Linked DNA regions of Homo sapiens: all the other regions are linked to region 2. Evidence: fine-mapped expression QTL. A gene starts in region 2. Each other region holds a variant in brackets. All regions are shown on one strand. Distances are from middle to middle. Region 1 overlaps PSME3IP1 (proteasome activator subunit 3 interacting protein 1). Region 2 holds the start of RSPRY1 (ring finger and SPRY domain containing 1). Region 3 overlaps RSPRY1 (ring finger and SPRY domain containing 1).

Evidence for each region.
Region 1: its variant is fine-mapped to the expression of RSPRY1 in whole blood (INTERVAL, PIP 0.92).
Region 3: its variant is fine-mapped to the expression of RSPRY1 in whole blood (INTERVAL, PIP above 0.99).

Annotation. Positions count from the first base shown.
Region 1 is chr16:57,155,299-57,163,298 of GRCh38, forward strand. The region is part of intron 6 of PSME3IP1 (proteasome activator subunit 3 interacting protein 1); the gene reads right to left. Among named protein-coding and RNA genes, the nearest start is that of PSME3IP1, 27 kb to the right of the region's middle. The variant G/GA (reference allele first, on the strand shown) is at 3,312.
Region 2 is chr16:57,183,092-57,191,406 of GRCh38, forward strand. RSPRY1 (ring finger and SPRY domain containing 1) reads left to right here and starts at 3,238. Exons shown (of 15, transcript NM_133368.3): 1 at 3,238-3,360. It overlaps PSME3IP1 (proteasome activator subunit 3 interacting protein 1), which reads right to left and starts at 2,948. Exons shown (of 7, transcript NM_024946.4): 1 at 2,730-2,948. RefSeq lists enhancers at 2,573-2,622, 3,934-4,578 and a silencer at 3,323-3,532.
Region 3 is chr16:57,235,422-57,243,614 of GRCh38, forward strand. RSPRY1 (ring finger and SPRY domain containing 1) reads left to right here. Exons shown (of 15, transcript NM_133368.3): 15 at 3,458-5,048. The coding sequence ends at 3,554. Among named protein-coding and RNA genes, the nearest start is that of ARL2BP, 5.7 kb to the right of the region's middle. RefSeq lists an enhancer at 42-171. The variant ACT/A (reference allele first, on the strand shown) is at 3,628.

The DNA of each region.
Region 1 (8,000 bases), 28 kb before region 2:
CACCTCAATGACAAAGACCTCAATCTAGACAATGCAGGGCTTGGCTGGGCATGGTGGCTTATGCGTATAATCCTGGCACTTTGGGAGGCTGAGATAGGAGGACCACTTGAGGTCAGGAGTTTAAGACCAGCCTGGGAAACATAGTGAGGCCCTATCTCTACGAGAAAATGTTTTGAAAAATTAGACAGTGCCAAGTGAGGTGGCTCATGCCTGTAATCCCACACTTTGGGAGGCCAAGTTGGGTGGATCACTTGAGGTCAGGAGGTCAAGACCACCCAAGGTGGGTGGATCACTTGAGGTCAGGAGTTCACTGGCCAACACAGTGAAATCCCATCTCTACTAAAAGTACAAAAAATTAGCTGGGTGTGGTGACGCGTGCCTGTAATCCCAGTTACTAGGGAGACTGAGGGAGGAGAATAGCTTGAATCCAGGAGGAGGCAGTGGTTGCAGTGAGTTGAGATCGCGCTACTGCACTCCAGCCTGGGCAACAGAGCAAGACACTGCCTCAAAAAAAAACAAAAAAACTAGTCGGGTATAGTGGTGCATGCCTGTGGTCCCAGCTACTTGTGAGGCTAATGTGAGGATTGCTTGAGCCCAGGAGTTCAAGGTTACAGTGAGCTATGATGGCACCACTGTACTCCAGCCTGGGCAACAGAGCAAGACCCTGTCTCAAAAAACAAACACACAAACAAACAAACAAAACAAAGAAAGAAAGAAGGAGGAGGAAGAAAAGAAAATGCAGGACTTGAAGATGAAAGGAAAAGTTAAGAACTCTACTCCAGCCCTTCCATTCTTCCCTGAAATGTTTCCGGCCTTATTTAATCACTACAACTTGATGTATAGGCATTATCCCCATTTTACTGATGAGGAAAGTCAAATGACTTGGCAAGGTTGTAGGTTGCTTAGGGCAGAAAATGTGAAACTAAACGTGAATCAAAAGAGAACATACGAAAATGATAACCTGAGCTCACTGCAGAGTAAGGGTTGGAGTTCATACTTTGTTGCCACAGGCTGACAAGCATACTACCTTCTAGGGTTTTGCCTTAGATGCACTAACACCTCATTTACCCAGACACCTCAAGTAAATGTGAAAAGAATACACAGTTCCAAGTATAGGAAACCAGGAGTAAGCAAACAATACCACTGAGCAGTTAGAAGAGATATCAAACGGCCCGCACACAAAGTTCAGGAGATCAATGTATTTGCTTGTTTGTGCAAGAAGCTCTAAGAAGGGAAAAGGAAGTTGCCAAAGATAAGCAATGTTAAAACACGGAGATGGAGAAAAGTCAAATGAAAGCCGACAGTGGCTACAGAGATAGAGCAAGGCTACAAAAAAAAGGCAGGAGCAAATACTTGTACTATCATAAAAGCAAATTTCCTTAAGATACTAAGAGTTCTTCCAAATCTGTTAAAAAAACAACCAACAACCAAATAGAAAAGTGAATGGAAAACATGAACAACTCAAAGAAAAAGAAACAGATGAATTTTAAACATAACGGGATAAACAATATATTAGGAGGGAACATGTTAGGAACAGCAAACTTCATTTGCTGTTCAGGGAGTACAGAGAAATTTGGCAAAGTTCTTCGAACTTAAATGATGTTCATAAGAGAACATTCATTGCAGCACTGTTTATAGTAGCAAAAGAGTACTGACAACCAAAATGTCCATTAATAGATGACTAGTTAAGTAATGGACTACTATTCAACCATGAAGAAGAATAAAGTAGCTGAGCATAATGGCTCATGCCTGTAATCCCAGCACTTTGGGAGGCCAAGGCAGGAGGATCATTTGAGCCCAGGAGTTTGAGAACAGCCTGAACAACACAGGGAGACTCTGTCTCTACAAAAAATTTAAAAAATTAGCCGGGTGTGGTGGTGCACACTTGTAGTCCCAGCTACTCAGGAGGCTGAGGTAGGTAGGAGGACCACTTGAACTGGCGAAGCTGAGGCTGCAGTGAGCCATGATCGCACCACAGAACTCCAAACTGGGTGACAGAGCGAGAACCTATCTCCAAAAAAAAAAAAAAAAAAAGAAGAAGAAGAAGAAGAAGAAAGCATCTCTGTGTGTACTGTTATTGAATGATCCCCAAGATATTGTGCTAAATGAAAAAGGCAAGGAGCAGGACAGTGTGTGAAAGTTACAATCTGGGGCAAAGTGGCCATGCCCATGTAGATGCATGTCAGTGTCTGAGAACAATAAATAAAAACTGGTAGCAGAGGCTGCTCAGGGGAAAGGAAATGAGTGGCTGGAAAATGGGGGAGACTTACTTTTTACTCCACATTCTTTTGTCCCTTTTGAATTTTTCCTTTTCTTTTTTTTCTTTTTTTTTTTTAAGAACATAAGGCTCACTATGCTGCCCAGGTTAAACTCCTGGGCTCAAGTGATGTTCCCGCCTCAGCCTCCCAGAGGGCTGGGATTACAGGCATGAGCCACCTAGCCTGGCCTAAATGTTTTATTATGTGCATATATTACCAATTCAGACAGTTTTTTAAAATGCAGCTGTGCTTGGGTAGACAATTTTTTAAAAAAGCAAATACAAAAATTCAAAGAACATCCTGAGCCCTTAAACTAGGGAGGAATAGTCCCATTTATCTCTGTAACCCCAAGAGCATCCCAGTATTAAAGCTAAGAAGGCTGTAGAAGATGAGAGGGGTTGCTTGTGTGTATTCTCCACTAACGGTAAGCCCCTTGAAGGCAAGCATTCTTTTATCACCATTCCACCCCCAGGACATATAGCACAGGGCCTGGCTCAGAGCAGGCTTGCATTCACAAGGGTCAGAAATCAGAATGCAGGAAAATGTGTCAGACAGTTTACAGTTTCATTGCAAATGGCTAATTTGGGGGGAAGGGGTATAAAAATGTGATGCTCTTTTAACATTTGGAACATAACATCAAACTATACCATTCATGACTTAAAAATACATTGTAGTACTTATGTATACCAGATAGAATGATATTTTCAGCATTCTGTTAGAAAAATTTGGTTGTTTAAAAAAAACAAACCAGCCAGGCGTGGTGGCTCACGCCTGTAATCCCAACACTTTGGGAGACTGGGGCGGGTGGACCACCTGAAGTCAGGGGTTCGAGACCAGCCTGGCCAACACAGGGAAACCTTGTCTCTACTAAAAATACAAAAATTAGCCAGGCGTGGTGGCACACCCCTGTAATCCCAGCTACTTGGGTGGCTGAGGCAGAAGAATCGCTTGAGCCTGGGAGGTGAAGGTTGCTGTGAGCCGGGATCGCACCACCCCACTCCAGCCTGGGTGACAGAGCTAGACTGTCTCAAAATAAAAAAACAAACCAACAAA[G/GA]AAAAAAAACCTTAAAAGGATATATAGATCAGTTACCTAGAAAACTAATTTATGTGAAATTGTTGAATGAGGTATTTCATTTTATCAAGTACAGACACCCCTGCTTAATGATGGGAATATGACCTAAGAAATGCATCATTAGACAATTCCATTGTTGTGAACATCATAGAATACTTATACAACCTAGATGGTATAGCCTACTACACATGTAGGCCACATGGTATATAGCCTATTGCTCCTAGGCTACAAACCTGTACAGCATGTTACTGTATGAATACTGTAGGCAGCTGTAATACAATGGTCAGTATTTGTGTATCTAAACATAGCTAAGCATAGAAAAAGGCATAGTAAAAATACGATATTATGATCTTATGGGACCACCATCATATATGCACCCATCATTGACCAAAATGGCGTTATGTGGCACATGACCATATTTCAAGGGCGAATGGAATTTAAAGTTCTATTTTACATAGAAAAGAAGGATGAAAGTCAGAGTGCCTGTGGGGGTAGAGAACTGGCCTAACGGAAGAATGGAAGTTAGCTACAGAAATATAATCAAGGAATCTGGACCACTGTGGTATCAGAAGAGTTTAAGTGAAGAGACCAAATACCCCAATTATCTAGGAGGTTTCAAGAAAGAAAAGAGATTGCAAATCTGACAAATTTCATTCCAAAAGCAGTTAACTGTCCAAAGAGAACAAAATGGTGCCCTCTGATCTCACCCATTTGGTGAAGTTTCCTGCCAACTTCTGCATTTGCAGGACCACATTGTCATACCAAATTAACACAGAAAATTACTAATAGAGAATGTTCTTAGTATTCAGACAGATGCGTGACTTGGGAGTAGATGGGGCCAACTTGTGCATTCACTGGCTCTGCTCAGTGCTTAAGTTCAAAATCTTCGCTGGGGGAAGCCTGAATTTCTATCAGAGTCATAGGGGCCCAAGACGGAAATCCTCCCACTGCTAAGGACAGGGCTGAAGCAAGCTTCAGGGAGCGTTCTTCTTGTGGAGCCTTAATTCCTAGCAAAGGAGGACACTTCCTGCCTGGTTTCTGTTGCAAGAATGCAGGAGTAGGAAGAAGGGATTTAGAATGACAAAAAGATGGCTCTGAAACACAGCTGTCTGCCTGAGATAGTTCAAAGAATCCACACAAGTTTTCCTTTCCACTGATTCATTTGTATAGTTCCTACCAGGAAATAAGTACCATATAAAGAGCGACTAGCTTACTTGTAGAAATACATTTAAGATTCCTATGCCAAGAGCATTTAACCCCAGCTACTCAGGAGGCTCACGTGGGGGATTACCTGAGCCTGGGAGTTTGTGGTTGTAGTGTGCCATGACTGCACCTGTGAATAGTCACTGCACTACAGCCTAAGCAACAAAGTGAGATCCTATCTCTAAAAAAAAATTAATTAAAAGAAAAATATTCCCTTTGGGAGGCCGAGGCGGGTGGATCATGAGGTCAGGAGATCGAGACCATCCTGGCTAACAAGGTGAAACCCCGTCTCTACTAAAAATACAAAAAATTAGCCGGGCGCGGTGGCGGGCGCCTGTAGTCCCAGCTACTCGGGAGGCTGAGGCAGGAGAATGGCGTGAACCCGGGAAGCGGAGCTTGCAGTGAGCCGAGATTGCGCCACTGCAGTCCGCAGTCCGGCCTGGGCGACAGAGCGAGACTCCGTCTCAAAAAAAAAAAAAAAGAAAAATATTCCTATGAAGCTTTATGTGTGTGTGTGTATACACATATACAGTATACATTTATCCTATTTAAGCAAATTTCCTATTTATTAAAAAGATGTCAGTGAAAAATTCCAAAATTGCTGATGGGAGTATAAATTGGGATAACTTATTTGAAGGGCAATTTGGCAATATTTACCTAAATTACAAATGTATATCCTCTCTGACCTATCAAGTCTACTTCAAAGTATTTAACCTGATAGATCTGTGCATGTGAAAAATTATGCATGTGCAGGATTATTACTGAAACATCAGAACAGGGAAAGAATGAAACAATCTAAGTGTTCATCAATTAAAAAGTAGGATAAATGATATACCCATGCAATATACAATACTACACAGCCTTAAAAAGGAACGAGGAAGTGCTCTATGTCCAGTTATGCAATGATTCCCAAGGTACAATAACTGCTGAATTAAGCAATGAACAGAGTAGGTTAGATTAAAATACTACTAACAATGAAAGTATGAAAACAGTATATAATGTATTCTTGCCGAAAAAACCAACTTGATCAACCTTCCAGATCAAACTACCATTTTACAGGAAACACAAGGTAGCAGGAAACAGCATGGGGATGCAATCAGTAAAATCTAGAGCCAGAGAAATGCTAAAGAACAAAGACCCAGTTTCTCCACAAATAAAATACAAAGAAAACAAAATATAAATTTAGAAAGGAAGAACTTACAGATTAAATTCAAATTAAAAGGTATATTAGCCTACTGCTAAGATGGCAACATTGCCAAATTAATCTACAGATTCCAACAATTCCTGTATCAAAATCGTAACTGCCTTTTCTGCAAAAACTGACAAGCTGATCCCAAAATTCATATGGAAATTCGAGACTCCAAATAGCCAAAACAATCTTGAAAAAGAGGAGCCAAGTTGGAAGACTCACACTTCCCAATTTTAAAACTTACTCCAAAGCTATAGTGATCAAGACTGTGTGCTAATGGCATACAGATAGACATATATAGCTCAGTGGAAGAAGAGAGTCCAGAAATAAACCCACACATTTATGGTCAACTGATTTTTAAAAAATATAAACCACTGAGTCGTATCCTTTTAAAGGGTGAATTTTATGGTATGTGAATTATACCTCAATACTTTTTTAAAAAAAAGCCATAGTAGCCAAATATAATGTCTGGTCCTTGCTAAGATCATAATTTTTTTTTTTTTTTTTTTTGAGACGGAGTCTCCCTCTGTCACCCAGGCTGGAGTGCAGTGGCGTGATCTCTGCTCACTGCAAGCTCCACCTCCTGGGTTCAATGCCATTCTCCTGCCTCAGCCTCCCGAGTAGCTGGGACTACAGGCATCCGCCAGCACACCCAGCTAATTTTTTGTATTTTTAGTAGAGACGGGGTTTCACCGTGTTAGCCAGGATGGTCTTGATCTCCTGACCTCGTGATTCACCCGCCTCGGCTCCCAAAGTGCTGGGATTACAGGTGGGAGTCACCGCGCCCGGCCAAGATCATAATTTTTAAAAAGAAAAAACTTTTTTGAGACAATTGGAGAAAATACTAACTTAATATTCGATAATATTTGGTAATTACTGTGATTATTATTATTATTATTTTTGAGACAGAGTCTCGCTCTTGTTGCCCAGGCTGGAGAGCAATGGTGCAATCTCGGCTCACCGCAACCTCTGCCTCCCAGGTTCAAACGATTCTTCCGCCTCAGCCTCCTGAGGAGCTGGGATTACAGGCATAGCCAGCAGCCCGACTAATTTTGTATTTTTAGTAGAGACAGGGTTTCTCCATGTTGGTCAGGCTGGTCACAAACTCCCAACCTCAGGTGATCTGCCTGCCTCAGCCTCCCAAAGTGTTGGGATTATAGGCATGAGCCACTGCGCCTGGCCTGTGATTATTAATATAATGGTACTGTAATTGTTAAAACAAAGAAACAAAATAAGAACTTGTATTTGCTAGAGACATATATTAAGAATTATGAATGAAATGATATAATGTCTGGAATTGTCACAAAATATTACAGTTGAGAGATATAAATGAAATAAAATTGGCTATGTGTTAAAAACTGCTGACTGGGTGTGGTGGCTCACACCTGTAATCCCAGCACTTTGGGAGGCCGAGGCAGGTGGATCACTTGAGGCTAGGAGTTCGAGACCAGCCTGGCCAACATGGCGAAATCCCGTCTCTACTAAAAATACAAAAATTAGCTGGGCGTGGTGGCACATGCCTGTAGTCCTAGCTACCTGGGTGGTTGAGGCATGAAAATTGCTTAAACCAGGAAGGCAGAGGCTGCAATGAGCCAAGATAACCCCACTACACTCTATCTTGGGTGATAGAGCAAGACCCTGTCTCAAAAAAAAAAAAAAAAAAAATTGTTGACGGTCTTTCCTGTAGGAGATACCTTACAAAGAAAAAAAAAAAATCAGTGAAGCTTGGTAATGGGGGTTTATTATACTTATTCCAACTTCTGAATATTGCTTAAATTATCCATAATAAAGCATTTAAAAGATACATATTTACAATTGCTTGCACATGCATAGAATAGCTCTTGATGGCTACATAAGAAATGTGGCTGGGCTTGGTGGCTCACTCCTGTAATCCCAGCACTTTGGGAGGCCGAGGCAGGCAGATCACTTGAGGTCAGGAGTGCAAGACCAGCCTGGCCAACATGGTGAAATCCTGTCTCTACTAAAAATACAAAAATTAGCCAGGTGTGGTGGCGCACGCCTGTAATCCCAAATACTCGGGAGGGTGAGGCAGGAGAATTACTTGAGCCCAGGAGGCGGAGGTTGCAGTGAGCTGAGATTGAGCCACTGCACTCCAGCCTGGGTGACAGAGTGAGACTCCATCTCAAAAAAAAGAAAAAAAAAAGTATAATTCTGTTTCCCTCTAAGGAGAACTAGATGGAAGAGATACGGGTAAAAGGCAGGCTCCTTTTTTTTTCCCCCAGACTCTTCTTTTTAAAAGTAGGTTCTAGACCAAAAGG
Region 2 (8,315 bases):
TCAGAAAGGAAGACTAGAATAAGCATTGGGGAAGCTTAATTTTCATAATGGCTGTGACGATGCACAGTGAAAAGTGGTGGAAATTTTAGGTATATGAAGAATAACCATCTTTAACTTGGAAATCACACAAATTTCACATTCCAAATTTCAGAATACAGGGGGATTTTCATTTCTTGAAATAGTGGGCTAGGTAATTGAAACCAATTCTCCACCTCTGCACTAAATATGCTGGAAATTTGTCAAAAATAATTTTTTTTTTGAGATAGGGTCTCGCTCTGTCACACAGACTAGAGTGCAGTGGCATGATCTCAGCTCATTGCAACCTCCACCTCCCAGGTTCAAGCGATTCTCCTACCTCTGCCTCCCGAATAGCTGGGATTGCAGGTGCCCGCCACCATGACTGGCTAATTTTTGTATTTTTAGTAGAGACAGGGTTTCACCATGTTGGCCAGGCTGGTCTCAAACTCCTGACCTCAAGTGATCTGCCCACCTCGACCTACCAAAGTGCTGGGATTACAAGTGTAAGCTACCACGCCCAGCCAAAAATATTAATTCTTAAATAGAAAAGCTAACAAGATAGTAAAGAATTTGGACACAATCTAGAAGGTGAAAACCAGAAATTAAGCCCAATATTCAAAATGGATTTCATCCTGAGGACTTCTCTGACCTAAAAGCTAAAGTTTCAGTGCCTTTATGAGATAACAGAAACAAGTTCAAGCCAGGAGCCCATCCAGGGAGTGGAGTCTGACAACTACCTCCCTCTCCATCTTAATCTTGTGCCCAAAAGAACTACAGCTTCAAAGTAAAGGTGAACTGGGAAGTAAAACAGCAGGAATAATGGACAACAGAAACAGACTCCCCCAAAGGGAATTCAGACAGTGGAATTAAACATAGAGATTATAAAAACAACTATACTTTCCATGTTTAAAGAAATAAAATTAAGCCTCAAAATAGTAAGAAATAAAAAACTGTAAAAGTGTCACAAACCAAACAGAACTTCAGAAACTAAAAATTGCAATATATGATTTAAGATTTCAGAGGCCGAGTTTAATAACAATGGAAATAACTTGAGAATAAATTATCCAGAATGTACTACGAAAGAACAGAGTAAAAGACATAGAGAAAAGAGTGAAAAGGTTTAGTTAAATCGATAAAAAAAAAAAGAGAAACAATGGGAAGAAGCAATATATGCATATAAAATGGCTGAGAATTTTACAGAATTAATGAAAGACACTAATCCACAGATTCAAGAAGTCTAATAAATACCAAACAAATTGAACAAAAACAAACCCATAGTTCCATAGAGCATAGTGGAAATACAGAAAACCAAACACAAAACAATCTTTTTTTTAAACTTGTCGATACTTGATTTTAGACAAAACAATCTTAACAACATATTCTATAGTAAAGAGTGAAACATAATATTTAAGAATGAAGACAAAGTATGTTCAAAAGGTGACTAATGGTGAACACGTTGAAAATGCTTAATTTAGCTGCCATAAAGGCATAATTACACTATGACTGACCCTGTACGTACATCGCACTTGTTACTTGATTTACCACATACGTGGTTTTCAATAGCTAAAGCAGCAGCTTGATTCTAACCAAGCATCACCATTCTTGGAAGATGAAAGTGAAGACTGATAATCAACTAAATGGTTTTGACACAATTATTCCTTTCTTATATCATGAAGCACTTCCCCACAGGGTAAGGACATGAAGACTTCAGTTGAGAAAGATAATCGGGCAGCCTCTACTTTCAGATCCTTACAAATTGTTCGCAGGTCATCTAACTAAAAGACTGTAAAAGCTGCTGTCGGCTCAATACTTTGTATCAAAAAGGAGTCTACCCACTGATTCCCTTCAAATATTTCAGAAGGGTGCCTTCCATTTTATGGTGTCCCTGTGGACACATGAATACACCAAATAACTGATGAATCGACAAATCTTATGTCACAGGTGGTAGGCAAGAGGTCATCGGGAATTCCGATCACCAGGCTCGCATCTGGCTTCTTGGGTCCCACTCCTGAACTAACCAGTCGGGCTACCCGAGCGTGCGGGAGTCTGAGAAACTGCATTTTAAAAGGGCCCCAGGAGATCTTGTTTTCCACTAACATTAAAGAACCACGACTACGAACAAACAGGTCTCCCCCTTTCCTCTGTGTGGACTGACAGTCACAAGGACCACCAACTCTCAAGCATGACGCTTCAACTCTCTTTGTTTCTTAAGTTTTCTGCAAAACGGGCCAGCTGGCTTGTTTTCCGTAATAGAAAATTCGCTTGGCACAGCAACTGGTACATGGCACACAATAAATGTGCTTCCCATCCTGCACTGCCATTCTGGGATTCAACCATTTCCAACCAGACGCCGCACATCCGAGTGAGTAACCTGGACCTGTTCCAAGACCTCTGGAACGGAGCCTGCTACTCACTTGAAACCTGGGTGGCCCTACCTAGCAGAAAATTGGGGAAACCCCATTAAACGCCCGGCAGTGTTGGGCCCGCCTGAAAGGGTCCTCGCCGCGACCCAGATGCCTTCCCGCGGGCACCCTCAGCTCCCCTCAGGCTGGGCCCGCAAGCCCCAGGCTTCGGCTACTCCGGACAAGGAGCGGGTGCGCGGACTGAGAACAGGCCTGGCCCTAACCCTAACAGCAGCCGCAGCTCATCTCTTCCGTAAGGAAGCTGGAACCCAGGTGTCGCCGCCAGGCCAGGACCGAGGCCGCACTCACCTACCGGCGCGCGGGAGGCGAGACGACCTCACCTCGGCGGCGCCCACCCCAAACCGCCACCGCAGAGCCGCTCGCTCTTAAAAAAGAAAAAAAAATGAAAGGAAGAAAGAAAGAAACAGAGGAAGGAATGAATGAAAGAAAGAAAAAAAAAAAGAAAATAGCCTTTGCTTTTGTATTTCTTTTGACCCTTCAGGGCTTCCTGTTCCTCACCGCCACAATAGAGTCCCGCCCCACTTCCGGCGACGTAACCCAATCCGCGGAGCTCTTCCTCCCCGGGAGCCCGATGGAAATCCGGTACCCTGAAAACGAGCCGGAGAGACTTGATTGGGCCATTCACGCCTCAGGATGAGGACTGGCCAGTCTGCGCCTGGAGGGCGGGCCGGTCCCGCTGATCACGTGACACGATTTTTGAAAGGTGATTGGCTGTCAAGGAGAGGGCTTGCCACCGAGGAAGGGGCGTTTCCTAGGGGACTGAGGGAGGGCTGGGGCGGTACGAAGCGGGGGTGGGCTCTGCGCGTAATGGCAGCGCCGTGGCCTCGCGTCCATCTTTGCCGTTCTCTCGGACCTGTCACAAAGGAGTCGCGCCGCCGCCGCCGCCCCCTCCCTCCGGTGGGCCCGGGAGGTAGAGAAAGTCAGTGCCACAGCCCGACCGCGCTGCTCTGAGCCCTGGGCACGCGGAACGGGAGGGAGTCTGAGGGTTGGGGACGTCTGTGAGGGAGGGGAACAGCCGCTCGAGCCTGGGGCGGGCGGACCGGACTGGGGCCGGGGTAGGCTCTGGAAAGGGCCCGGGAGAGAGGTGGCGTTGGTCAGAACCTGAGAAACAGCCGAGAGGTTTTCCACCGAGGCCCGCGCTTGAGGGATCTGAAGAGGTTCCTAGAAGAGGGTGTTCCCTCTTTCGGGGGTCCTCACCAGAAGAGGTTCTTGGGGGTCGCCCTTCTGAGGAGGCTGCGGCTAACAGGGCCCAGGTGAGAGGCAGCTATCTATCTCCTGGGGTGGCTCCTGGTACCGATGGGGTCCTGACCTACTCAGGGGTGCCCGGGATAGAAAGGGTAGATGAAGGGACGCTTTAGGAGGGTTCTTTTTGTGGAGTTTACGGTCTAGGTGGCACGGATGAGGCATACCTCCCCGGGGAGATTTAGAAACGCCTTGGGATAGAGAGAGAATGGGGCTAGGAAGCAGGAGCTAGAACTAGCGGAATGTCCTACTACGGAAGCCGGAGCTGAAAATTGGGTAAGGACCTTGGGGAGAGGGGATTTCTGGGCGGTGATGGGAAGAAGACACCTCCATCCACAGGAAAGCCAGAGTGGGGAGTAGTGAAAGGGAAACGGGAATTATTCCCTCTCTCTGTAGATCGACCAGGTGTCCCAGACACAGGATCCAACTGCTTCCGGGCTTATTGCCCGAGTGGGGTGGGGAGAGTCTATCCCACCAACACCCCTTGCGTGAGTCCAAATTAGGCATTTGTCTCTCCTGCTGCCTCACTTTCCCCGTCTTTGGGGAGGGAAACCGACTGAGACCGAGGCGGTCGGCTGAGACTCCGAGGTCCTGTCTTGTATAGTTCTCTGAGAGAGGTTGCTCCCCCTGGAGTGTTGTACTTTGAACTTTGAAGGGTTAGAAGTGTCTGTTATCGACTGAGTAGAATCCCGCAGTTTTCCAGGCCCTTTACCTACCATCTGTTCTTGCTTAGTGGAGTGACTTAACCTCCTTAAGTCTCTACTGTAAAATAACCAGCGCAGTATGTGAAAGTACAAATTACAAGCTGCGTGAACGTAAGTTAGTGTGATTCTACCACCAAACGGGTTGCTGTTGAGGAATAAAAGTGAAGGCACTTTCTAAAATGTAAAGTAGTATGTAGAGGTAAGGGGTGGGATTAATACAGTCGTTGTCTGTCACCTGCGGAGTGCTGGGAGCCATATTGTACTGAAAGCTTCAAGGTTCACAGCTTCTTAGGTCATATTAAGATCTAAACCCATGGTTTCAAACCCTGCTTAGATGGGGATGGTGGGATTTCCAGCTTTTGCTCTCAGAGTTTTCATTTACTTTGAACTTCTTATGGTGCTGGCAGGAGTTACCACTGTAATATCTTTTCCTTCAGGAATTATTTTCCCCTAACAGCTGAAATTTTCCTCTAAGTAATTTGATCTCAACATTGTAAACCTCCTCCCCCTTTTGCATATATATATGCATGGCTTTTGGATGTCTACAGGCAGTGAATATCATACTTTCTCCCTCAGTTGTGATTTGTAAAGACTGCCTTTTTTCCTCCACGAATACTATGCGTTGTTGTGGTAGCCCTAGACTATAGATTATGAGGCATGTTGGAAGTTGCTTTTAAATTTCTCTTGCACAGTGGTTCTCTTTATTTTTCCCCTTATGTGGACTTTGCATTTCCTGGGATGGTATCTTGCTTTGTAGATCCCTCTATGAGATTGTAAGAGACTTGTGTCCCTGTATGACATTTTACTAGTGTTTGGTTCGTCGTACTTGTTAGAGATGGTTTTCCAAATATCGGGCAATCATTTCCTGGGATGGTATCTTGCTTTGTAGATCCCTCTATGAGATTGTAAGAGACTTGTGTCCCTGTATGACATTTTACTAGTGTTTGGTTCGTCGTACTTGTTAGAGATGGTTTTCCAAATATCGGGCAATTTATATGGGATTTTTTCCGAAGTAATTTAGTTGTGTTTTTGGTTTTTTTGTTTGTTTGTTTTTTGAGACGGAGTTTCGTTCTTGTTGCCCAGGCTGGAGTGCAGTGGCGCTATCTCGGCTCACTGCAACCTCCGCCTCCTGGGTTCAAGCGATTCTCCTGCCTCAGCCTCCGGAGTAGCTGGGATTACAGGCATGTACCACCACGCCCAGCTAATTTTGTATTTTTAGTAGAGACGAGGTTTCTCCGTGTTGGTCAGGCTGGTGTCGAACTCCCGACGTCCTGTAATCCGCCTGCCTCGGCCTCCCAAAGTGCCGGGATTACAGGCGTGAGCCACTGTGTCTGCCTTTCGAAGTAATTTTTGTACTGCTCTGAATTTTCTGTTTTTGTGATCCTATATTCTGTGGATCTTTTTAAAAACTATAACTGGTGATTGTGAGTTATTTGATCTCCCAGGATGCATGTTGCCCTAACCTACTATTTAATGTCTTTCTATGTTATGCTTTTTTCTGTACTCAGTGACTTTTTTTTTTTTTTTTTTTTGAGACCGAGATTCCCTCTTGTTCCTCAGGCTGGAGTGCAATGGCGCGATCTCAGCTCACTGCAACCTCTGCCTCCCGGGTTCAAGCAATTCTTCTGCCTCAGCCTCCCAAGTAACTGGGATTACAGGCAAGCACCACCCGTGCCTGGCTAATTTTTGTATTTTTAGTAGAGAGGGAGTTTCACCGTGTTGGTCAGGCTGGTCTTGAACTCCTGAGCTCAAAGTGATCTGCCCACCTTGGCCTCCCAAAGTGCTGGGATTACAGGCATGAGCTACTGTGCCTGGCCCTCAGTGATTATTTTCAAGTTATTGATTATAGGAGGTATACCAGCATACTCTATGTGGGCTTCTGCTTTTGTCAGCAAAATAACTTTTCATTTAGTAAGTATCAAAGGGAAATAAAAACTTAGCATTTTGTATAATAGTGTGTTAATCTGTAGTGAATCAGGTAAAAACAACAAATCTGAGTTATGTAGCACTGTGGGGCCTGGAGGCTAAAAAAAAAAAAAGTGTGTTTTGTCAAGAGTTTAACAAACAATTATTCTGTATTTCTTTTTTTCTGTTTTTTCTTTTTCTTTTCTTTTCTTTTTTTTTTTTTTTTGAGACAGGGTCTCATGCTGTCTCTCAGGCTAGAGTGCAGTGGTGCAATCACGGCTCACAGAAGCCTCTACCTCCCAGGCTCAGGTGATCCTCCCACATCAGCCTCCCAAGTAACTGGGACTACAGGTGCGAGCCACCACACCTGGCCAATTTTTGCACTTTTTTTAAGACAGGGTTACGCCATGTTGCCCAGGCTGGTCTCAAACTCCTGGGCACAAGCCATCCACCCACCTTGGCCTCCCAAGGTGCTAGGATTACAGGTGTGAGCCACCATGCCTGGCCTCGTGAGCTTAATTTAGTCTGTTGAGAATTGTATATGCTTTCCTTAACAATGAAGTAATTTGTTCTAATGAAGTGGGAAATCCCTTTGCATCTTTTTAAATACAGCTTTCTTTCACACTCTATATAGTTTGGAGAAAATGTTAGGAATTCTTGAAGGTAGTAATCACTATTACACTACTTAAGATTGGAAGTTATGGCTGGGCATGGTGGCTCACACCTATAATCACAACACTTTGGGCGGCCAAGGCGGGAGGATCACTTGAGCCCAGGAGTTCAAGACCAGCCTGGGCAACATGGCAAAACCCCATCTCTACAAAAAAATACAAAAATTAGCCCAGCGTGGTGGCACATGCAGATAGTCCCAGCTACTTGGGAGGCTGAGGTGGTAGAATCTCTTGAGCCTGGGAGGTTGAAGATGCAGTGAGCCACTGCATTCCAGCCTGGGTGACAGAGCAACACCCTGTCTCAAATAAATAAATAGGAAATGTTCTGTATTTTTTAGTAGGATACTTGTAAAGTGGGGTGTGATAGTCTCAGGATTGCAAAATAAGTGGAAAGTCAGTAGTCACCACAAATGGGAAACACAGTGGAACCAGCAATCTATTTCAAAAGAATTATTTGGGGATAATAAACTATGGATTTAGCTTCTCTTCAAGCTTTTGGCATTTTCAAGGCAGTTATCATTGAATTTGGGTAGTTTTTTCCCTGATATTCAAATTAGAAAATTGAAAAGCAGAATAATCACGAAGTAGTAAATGCCGTAACTTGGGCAACAGCCTTTTGGAGGGGACTTTTACAACTTTTAGAAGTGCAAAGGAGTGAATATTTCCCTTTGGTTTATCATTCAGTAAGTCAGCTTTTGAAATCCTTTTCTTGCCAACCTTTGTGAGTAGAGAAAACATACAAATGTGTCCATTCCAAAAGGGAGTGGTTGCTGGTTAAATATGTAAAAGTAGTAACTTTAGATAAATGTGTGGTATATACAAGGTTAAATCAGGAAAAGTTATCTTATAAATAGTGGTGGCCTCTTAGAGAACATTCCGCTTTGTTTCTGAGCTTTTGAAAACTGAGAATACATTTGAAATAGTAAGGAATTTATGTACTCCTTAAATTTGTTAAGGAATGAACTCTGCACATAGCTTTCTTGTTGCTTGAAATTATAGTTTCCAGGCGTAATTTCATAGGTCCTATGTACCTCAAATAGAAGGTTTGAAATACCTTACTCAGCAAGTATATTACCTCATAGTTTAATGTTCAGTGTTAGTTTTTTCTTACCCCTCTACCTCCTGAAGAATTGTTTTCGCTCTTGTGTTCCCTTAATGCAGTGATTCTCAAGATGTGGTTTCTGCCCAGTCCCTCCACATGGGAAATATAGCACTGTTTGTTTGTTTTTTTAAGTTTTTATTGCTTCATAGTTGTTCATACTTAGGTATGCCTAAGGGCTACTTATTAATAACCTACCAAGTGAATTACTAAGGATTACTAAAACATGGTATTCATAACCTAAAACTAGAAC
Region 3 (8,193 bases), 52 kb after region 2:
ACTGTATTTTTGATACAATTTTGGCTTCACAAAATGTAACAGGTTTAATGCTATTTATGAGCTTCCTAGGCACTCTTTTAGTTTTAGAGCTTCCTCATTTACTTCTTATTTACAGTCAACCATTGAGAAGTTAGCAGCCTCCATGTCATCTTACTAAATTTCAGTTGTATGAGATGAACTCAGAGGGCAGCCTGGACCCTATAGAACAGAGTGAGCATCAGCAAGAGAAGCAAGTAAGATGGTCCCCAGGAAGGCTAGCCCAACTAAGTTTAGAAAGGAGAAGAGCAGTTGGGCAATGTGGCGTCCTGGCCAGTCAATGTGTGCCGATTGTTTATGAGCAACACTCAAGTTGATGTTACAAGCCAGCTACCTGTAATTCATCATATCCCATACCCTGCCTTGGTCTTATTTTTGACATAGCTTTAGTCACGTGGCTCCACAGGGGTCCAGAGCCTGGAGTGATGAACCCAGTTTGTCATCCCCAGGAATGACTCAGCCTGGGCCCCTGACTCTGCCTCTCTACGTTTGTTGTCTTTTGAAACGGGTTATCTAATTGGCTGTGCACTTAAGGGAAGTAGAGTGTGTCTCATTTCACCCTTAGCTATACCAGCCTCTCTTCTGAAAGAAAGGCACAGTGATTCCAGCTGTGATTAATCCTCCCTATTACTTCTACAGCCCAGAATTTCTCAGTTTGAGCATATTTGGAGGGTTTAGTTATCAGGGCCTCACAGACAGATGCAGAGTTTAAAGGTTGGATATCTTCATGCCCTTTTTGATCTTTGTTTCTGTAAGAATGTTAAGATCTCAAACAGCTGGATCTGGTCTTAATCATCTTTGAGCTCTCTGGTCCTGTGGTCTTGCACATAATACAAGGGGTCATTAATGAGTGCTGAAATATAAAACTTTAGAACTAGGTATCTTAAGTATGATCATAGTCTCCATAGTAGATATATATCCAAAATAGAGTTGGAAGAGGACATTAAAAGAATTATAAGAAAATTTAGCTAAACTTTGAGCAGCAACAACAATTTTAAAAGGGATATAGGGACAAAGAAAGGAAACCTGGATAAAATGAATTACAAGAGTCAATCCCCAGAGGAGACTGAAAATCTAAGCATTCCTGTTACCATAAAAGAAGTTAAAATGGTTATCAAAGCTACCTTTGCCTTCTCTTCCACAAGTACTAAGGCTAGTTTCACAGGTGAACTCTTTACAACTTTCAGGGAATAGGTAGCCCAATTCTATTTAAACTTGGCCAAACCATAGAGAAAGTAGGAAAACCACAATGTTATTTTTAGTAATCATACCAAAAGCTGATAAAACTCATAAAAAGAAAAAACTATTTTTTTATGAATATAAATCTAAAACTCCCAAATAAAATATTAGAAAGTAAGACCTAGCAACGCAACTGGCAGGGGGAGTTATCTTAGGAATGCAAGGATGGTACAATTACAGAAATCTTAGGCTGGGCACGGTGGCTCACACCTGTAATCCCAGCACTTTGGGAGGCCAAGGCGGGTGGATCACAAGGCCAGGAGTTTGAGACCAGCCTGGCCAAGACAGTGAAACCCCGTCTCTACTACAAATACAAAAAAAATTACCCGGGCGTGGTGGTGGGCGCCTGTAATCCCAGCTACTCAGGAGGCTGAGACAAAGAATTGCTTAAACCTGGGAGGTGGAGGTTGCAGTGAGCAGAGATCGTGCCACTGCACTCCAGCCCAGGCAAAGGCAGGTTTTTTTGAGATGGAGTCTTGCTCTGTCGTCCAGGCTGGAGTACAGTGGTGTGATCTCAGCTCACTGCAGCCTCTGCCTCCTGGGTTCATGCAATTCTCCTGCCTCAGCCTCCCGAGTAGCTTGGATTACAGGCGCATGCCACCAGGCCCAGCTAATTTTTGTATTTTTAGTAGAGACGGGGTTTCACCATGTTGGCCAGGCTGGCTCGAACTCCTGACCTAAAGTAATCCACCTGCCTTGGCCTCCGAAAAGTTCTGGGATTACAGGCATGAGTCACCATGCCCAGCCTACAATATAGAAATCTTTAATATAATTACTCAAATAGGCCAGAGGCAGGAGAGGGGCAGTTATCACTTCAAGAATGCTGAGAAAGCATTTGTTAAAATTCAATATCCATTCCTAATGGATGAAATACTACAAAACAGAAATGAATGGACTAAAACAATATAAAATAGGAATGGATGGATACTTCCATAACAATACAAAAAACACATATATTTCAGCCAAATGCTAGTATCTCTTTATTTTTTTATTTTTATTTATTTATTTATTTTTATTTATTTATTTATTTTTTGAGACGGAGTCTCGCTCTGTCACCCAGGCTTGAGTGCAGTGGCGTGATCTCAGCTCACTGCAACCTCCGCCTCCCGAGCTCAAGTGATTTCTCCTGCCTCAGCCTCCCAAGTAGCTGGGATTACCAGTGCCCGCCACCATGCCCAGCTAATTTTTGTATTTTTAGTAGAGACGGGGTTTCACCAGCTAGCATCTTTTTAATGGTGACACATAGGAAGCATTTCAAGAGATGTTGGGAATAAGATAAGGATGCCTACTGTCACCACTATGACTTACAAAATACACAAAAATCAGTAGCTCTTCTAGCTATATGTATAATAGCAGCCAGTTAGAACATATAATTGAAGATCCCTTTTACCATGGTTAAAAAAAAAAGTGCTATCTAAGAATACATAGCAAGAAATATGTAGAGCGTATATGAAGAAAACTTTTAAACTACCAAAGAGTATAACAGAAGACTTAAATAAATGAGTCTCTTCTTGGATAGGAGGACCTCTCAGTATTGTAAAGGTGACAGTTTTCTCTAAACTCTAAGTTTAATTTGCTCAACATAAAAAGAGCAACATGATTTTTTTCTGGAACTTGACATGCTGATTTAAAAGTTTAAGGCAAGAAAATTCTGAAAGTTAGGGAGATGACAACCATACCACATCTTAAAATACATTAAAATAAATGTTAATAGTTTGGTCCCATTACTATATGACAAGAATGGCAGAATAATGGAATACAATAAAAGCCCAGAAATAGAACTAACTAAAAATGAAAATTTACCATATGACAAAGGCATTGTGTCAAAACTGTGGTGAAAGATGGACTGTTTGGTAAATGATTCTGGGATAAATGGCTAGCTTTCTGGGGAGAAATATTATATCCCTACCTATAAGTGCACATCTGTAAGTATATGCTGTGCACATATAGAGTGTCTGAAAGAATGCATATGAACTTTTTACTTGTTCCACAGACTAAGACAATTGAGGATCAGAAATGTAAGATTTACTTTTTATTTACATATTCATTTTTTTTAAACCATGTATAATTAGTAACCCTTTCAATGAACAAACTTGTTAACATTTTTGATTTAGTTGGCAGGCAGTTGGAGTTTGACCTTTTGAAGCATTAACTTGACTGACTTTTCTGTGTTTCTCCCCAGTGACCTGTGCATGGATTGTGCCTTGCAGCTGGAGACCTGCCCATTGTGTCGTAAAGAAATAGTATCTAGAATCAGACAGATTTCTCATATTTCATGACACATGTGAAGAGGCATCGTGGACTTTTTTCTACTCAATTCCAGCCAATGTTGAAAAGAAAAAGAAAAAAAAA[ACT/A]CTCTAATCAGTTGTACACACATTGAAACTTATAGCCATGGCCAGATTTTATGCTAAAAATGGTAGTTTGTCAAAGACAAAATTCTCTTAGAATCTAATCCAACTTGCCAGCCCTGAGAAAATCCCTTTTAAGGCCAAGGAAAGCTGAATGCTAGCAGCCAGGCCTGTGGTACTTCCATGAGAAACCATAGCAGACAATGCCCTCCCAAGTACTGAAATCACACTGGAATCCCCCTTGTTGGGTTCATTTGATTGTTTAACACAGGATGTGTTGTGTCATTCTGAAGTTTTTATTTGGGGCAGAAGTCTTTATGGAGATGTAAATGACAGCGTTTCTGGGTTATGCATAACTTCTCACTGGTCAGAGACACCGGTGTGTCAAGCATGGATATTGCATTGCAAGACTTGAATCTATAAAAATTAGAATCACACAGTCAGTACTACAAGCAAAACAGAGAACCTGAAAGAAGGTGCACAGACTGTAAGAAAAAACCCAAGTTTGTGATATTTCAGTGATTCCAAAGAACATTCTAGGTTTTTTGTTTGTTTTTTTGTTTTTTGGGTTTTTTTTTTTTACTGCAGAAAATTGGTGGTATTTTCACATTCATAGTGTTTCTATCCAATTTCAGTACCCACATTTAATGAGGAAAAAATGTTTTACCAATGAAGGAGGAATTCTTAAATTAGCTGTAATGTTAGGTTGGAGAAAATTTGGTATTTAGGGTATTTTCAAGGTACCATCAAATCAGATTTCTGTTTTTTTGTTAAAAAAAATTTTTTTAATCAGTATTGTTTTTACAAGTAATATACTTTGAAACTCTTGAACTAATAGTCTCAAAAACTCTAGAGGACAGTCTGAGAACACGTATTTCTATTGTTCTAAATAAATACATGTTTTTGAATAGTTCAATCATGAATTATTGACTATGTCTTCATCAAAAGTGTTAATCCCTCTCAGGGTCTCTGGTGAAGACCTTCAAGAGTTTGGTTTTTTCTCCCAGGAAATTGGAAGGTAGAATTGTAAATTCATAGAACTTCTTTTATAATGGTGTACCTCAGCAGCTGCCTTTCAATTTATGCCAAGTCCTTACAGAGTTTATACTTGAATAGTAAATATGTCTTCTGAGTTTTACAGTGTCTTAAACTCAATGCACATTTTTTTTTCTTCTTTTTCCACCCCTTCTTGTTTGTAGTTCATTATACCTGTCCTATTACAGAACTGATTTCCTTCCTGGCTGTACATGTTGGGGTGCTGGATTTTTTTCCGTGTCTTTAGTCTTCCATAAATCCACACACACACACACACACAAAAAATATATATATATATAAATATATATGTAGGATACATGTTCTCTTCTTTAGCTTGTGGTGAATACAGTAATTTGCATTGAAGAATAAAACATCTGTTGCCTTTTTTGACTAAGATTTCACAACTTTCATTGGTGTATACTGCTAAGGTTCCAAGACATTATACTCTCAGACTTTAAGGGCTACTTTTGGGAGTAGGAGAGAATCAAGTATTAGAATTAAGAATAAGGCCACTTACTCATCCAGCAGATTGTTATTGAGCACCTAATATGTGCTGGGCACTGTGCCTATGTGGCATACAAAATATGCTTGTAGAGCTTATGTCTAATAAGCTTGTCTAATTATTGTCTATTATTATGTCTAACAGTAATTTGGAAGTGGTCCAGCTGAGACTAAAGGTAGTCTGTACATTTAGTAGAGAGAGGGAAAAATAGATGGAATTAATAGATAATTTGCGAGGCAAAGGAATGCAGGAGCCTAACAGCTTTCTAAAAATCTACCCTTGAAGTTTGTTCCTAAGGTGGGGAGAAGACAATATATTTGTGTTTATTGTAACAGATTTTTAGTGGAAAAGAATAGGGTCCTAGAGAGAATGAGGGGGACCTAATTTAGATGGTGGTGGGAGTGTCAGAAGAAACCTCACTGGGGAAGTAACATTAGTGAAACTTAAAGGAGGAAGTAGGACATAGCCTGGCAGAGACTGAGGACTAGCTTCTAGGACTGGGTAGCTAGGCGAACACAACATTTTAGGCAAAGGCACTAACTGAGGAAGAATGGGTCTCAGTGGGTTTGGGGATCCGATGGAAGGCCCCTGTAACTGGAAAAATAGGAAGCAAGTAGGTAGAATAGGTAATGCTACAGTGTTGGAGAGGCCAGGGAACTGCTCATGAAGGCTATGTGAAGGATTTTCTGTTTTATACTAAGTGCAGTAGAAGGCAAAGGTGTTTAAGCATGGAAGTGCCTTGATAATTCTAACAGATGGCTCTGGCTTCTATTTGGAGAATGGAATGGAGGAGTGGGGTGGGCTGGGGGTAAAGGACAAGCAAAAAAATGGAAATAGACCAGTAAAGAAATGTGTGGTCCAGCTGAAACTAAAGGTAGTCTGTACATTTAGTGGAGAGAAGGAAAAATAGATGGAATTAATAATTTGCCAGGCAAAGGAATGCAGGAGTGTAACAGCTTTCTAAAAATCTACCCTTGAACTTTGTTCCTAGGGTGGTTTACGTTTCCTGTTCTTAAGTTCTAGATCATAAAACAAAAGGGCTTCAATATTAAATTGATCAAATCATCCAGGATGGAAGCTAAATTGTAAACTTGGAGCCACCTCAAAGGGAAAGACAGGAACTCCCTATCAAAGAAAAAACTAGGGGTTAGCAAGCTATGTGGAAGCGTAAAGTCGTACATCCATATTCTGAACTGAATGTAAGCATTTAAGAGAAATTAAAAGCTAGACTTTTACTACTGATAAATTGTTACCAGGGAGAAAAACAAAAAATTATGGTATTTTGTCAGGTGATTCACTGGGGAAATCCAGCATTTCAGCCAAAAAAGTTTTTTAATGAATTTGCCCCTTTTTAAAATAACATAGAGCAGAAGAAAGTCATGGTGCCATTTGCAGAGTGCCAGGAAACTGATTCAGTCACAAAACTGACACAATTTCACTGGCAGAAAATGACTTTTGCACAAGTTTCAACCATCTTGAATGTGTATCCATGAAAACAAACCATCCACCTAAGATCAGCTCTTTCCAATATTGCCCATCATTTACCTTTTGCTATTTATTCACTCAGAAGAATTCCTAGTGCCAACCCCCAATCAAAGGATTTTAAAAATGAGTATTAATGGAAAAACATTTAGTGTATTCAAGTCAATTTTTAGTTTTGCTACAAGTGGAAAAAGGCCATTCTGTATTCAGGAGAAAACGTTCTGATTTCCAAGAATATGGTTTAACAACCCAGGGATTAGGGGCTATATAGCATGATGGTTGAAATAGGCCCTTTGGAGTGGGACTGGACCCAGGTCCCACTAATGCTTGGTTTCCCAGTCTGTAAAATGGAGATACTACCCACCTCATACCGGTTTTTTGTTTTTGTAAGGTCTCAAATATTTCAAAAGGAGACAATGTATTTATAAATGTTTAGCACACTATCTGATACATCCTTGAGTGGGTACTTTTTATCTTTATCCCCATTTGTTCCTAGAGTCAGTAAGGTTGGTGAAATGGATTAAAAGATGGCCACAAATTATTTGACATCCCTCCCGTCAAGAAATGAGGTTTATGTCTACTTTCCTTAAATTTGGGTGGCTCTGGGTCTGCTTGATCAGTGGAACACAGTGGAAGGGCTATTGTGCCAGTTTCCAGTACCAGGTCTTTAAGTGACTGCCAGCTTACATTTCAGTGTCTTGAAACACTTGCTCTTGGACCCAGCACCATGGTGTGAGAAAACCCAAGAATCCCCTGAATCCTATAGATGGAGAGGAACTGAAACCCCCCAAACCCCGGCCCCAGTTCTCTGGCCAATGTCCACAACTGAGAGCCAAGAGCCAACACTAATTTGCCAGCCATGTGAGTAAACTCCTTGGAGGAAGCTCCTCTAGTCCATTCCAGCTGCCCCCAGCCGACACCAACTGGAATAGAGACTAGCTGGCCCTGCCCAAATTACAGATTAGTGAGCAAAATGGTGGTTTTAAGCCACTAAATTTTCAGGTGGTTTGTAACAGCAATAGATAACCAGAACAGATTAAATCAAGGTGTGTTCCTCCTCCACTCCATCAATGACTTAGGAAGGGTAGGCAAATTCATTTTGTCCAGAAATGTGTGGTATATAGAGAAAGTAGGTCATGAAGAAACTCTCTGAGTTTGCTGTAAGCTGTGTGACCAGGGCTTGACTAAACAACTCAGTCCAGTAATTCAGCAAATCTTTTTAAATGCCTATCTTCCACTTGGTGCTAAACAGAGTAACTCATAATTGATGTCACCTGACCGGGTGCGGTGGCTCACGCCTGTAATCCCAACACTTTGGGAGGCCGAGGCGGGCAGACCACCAGAGGTCAGGAGTTCGAGACCACGCTGGCCAACATGGTGAAGCCCTGTCTCTACTAAAAATACAAAAATTAGCCGGGTGTGGTGGCACGCGCCTGTAATCCCAGCTACTTAGGAGGCTGAGGCAGGAGAATCCCTTAAACCCGGGAGGCAGAGATTGCAGTGAGCCGAGATTGCGCCACTGCACTCCAGCCTGGGCAACAGAGCAAGACT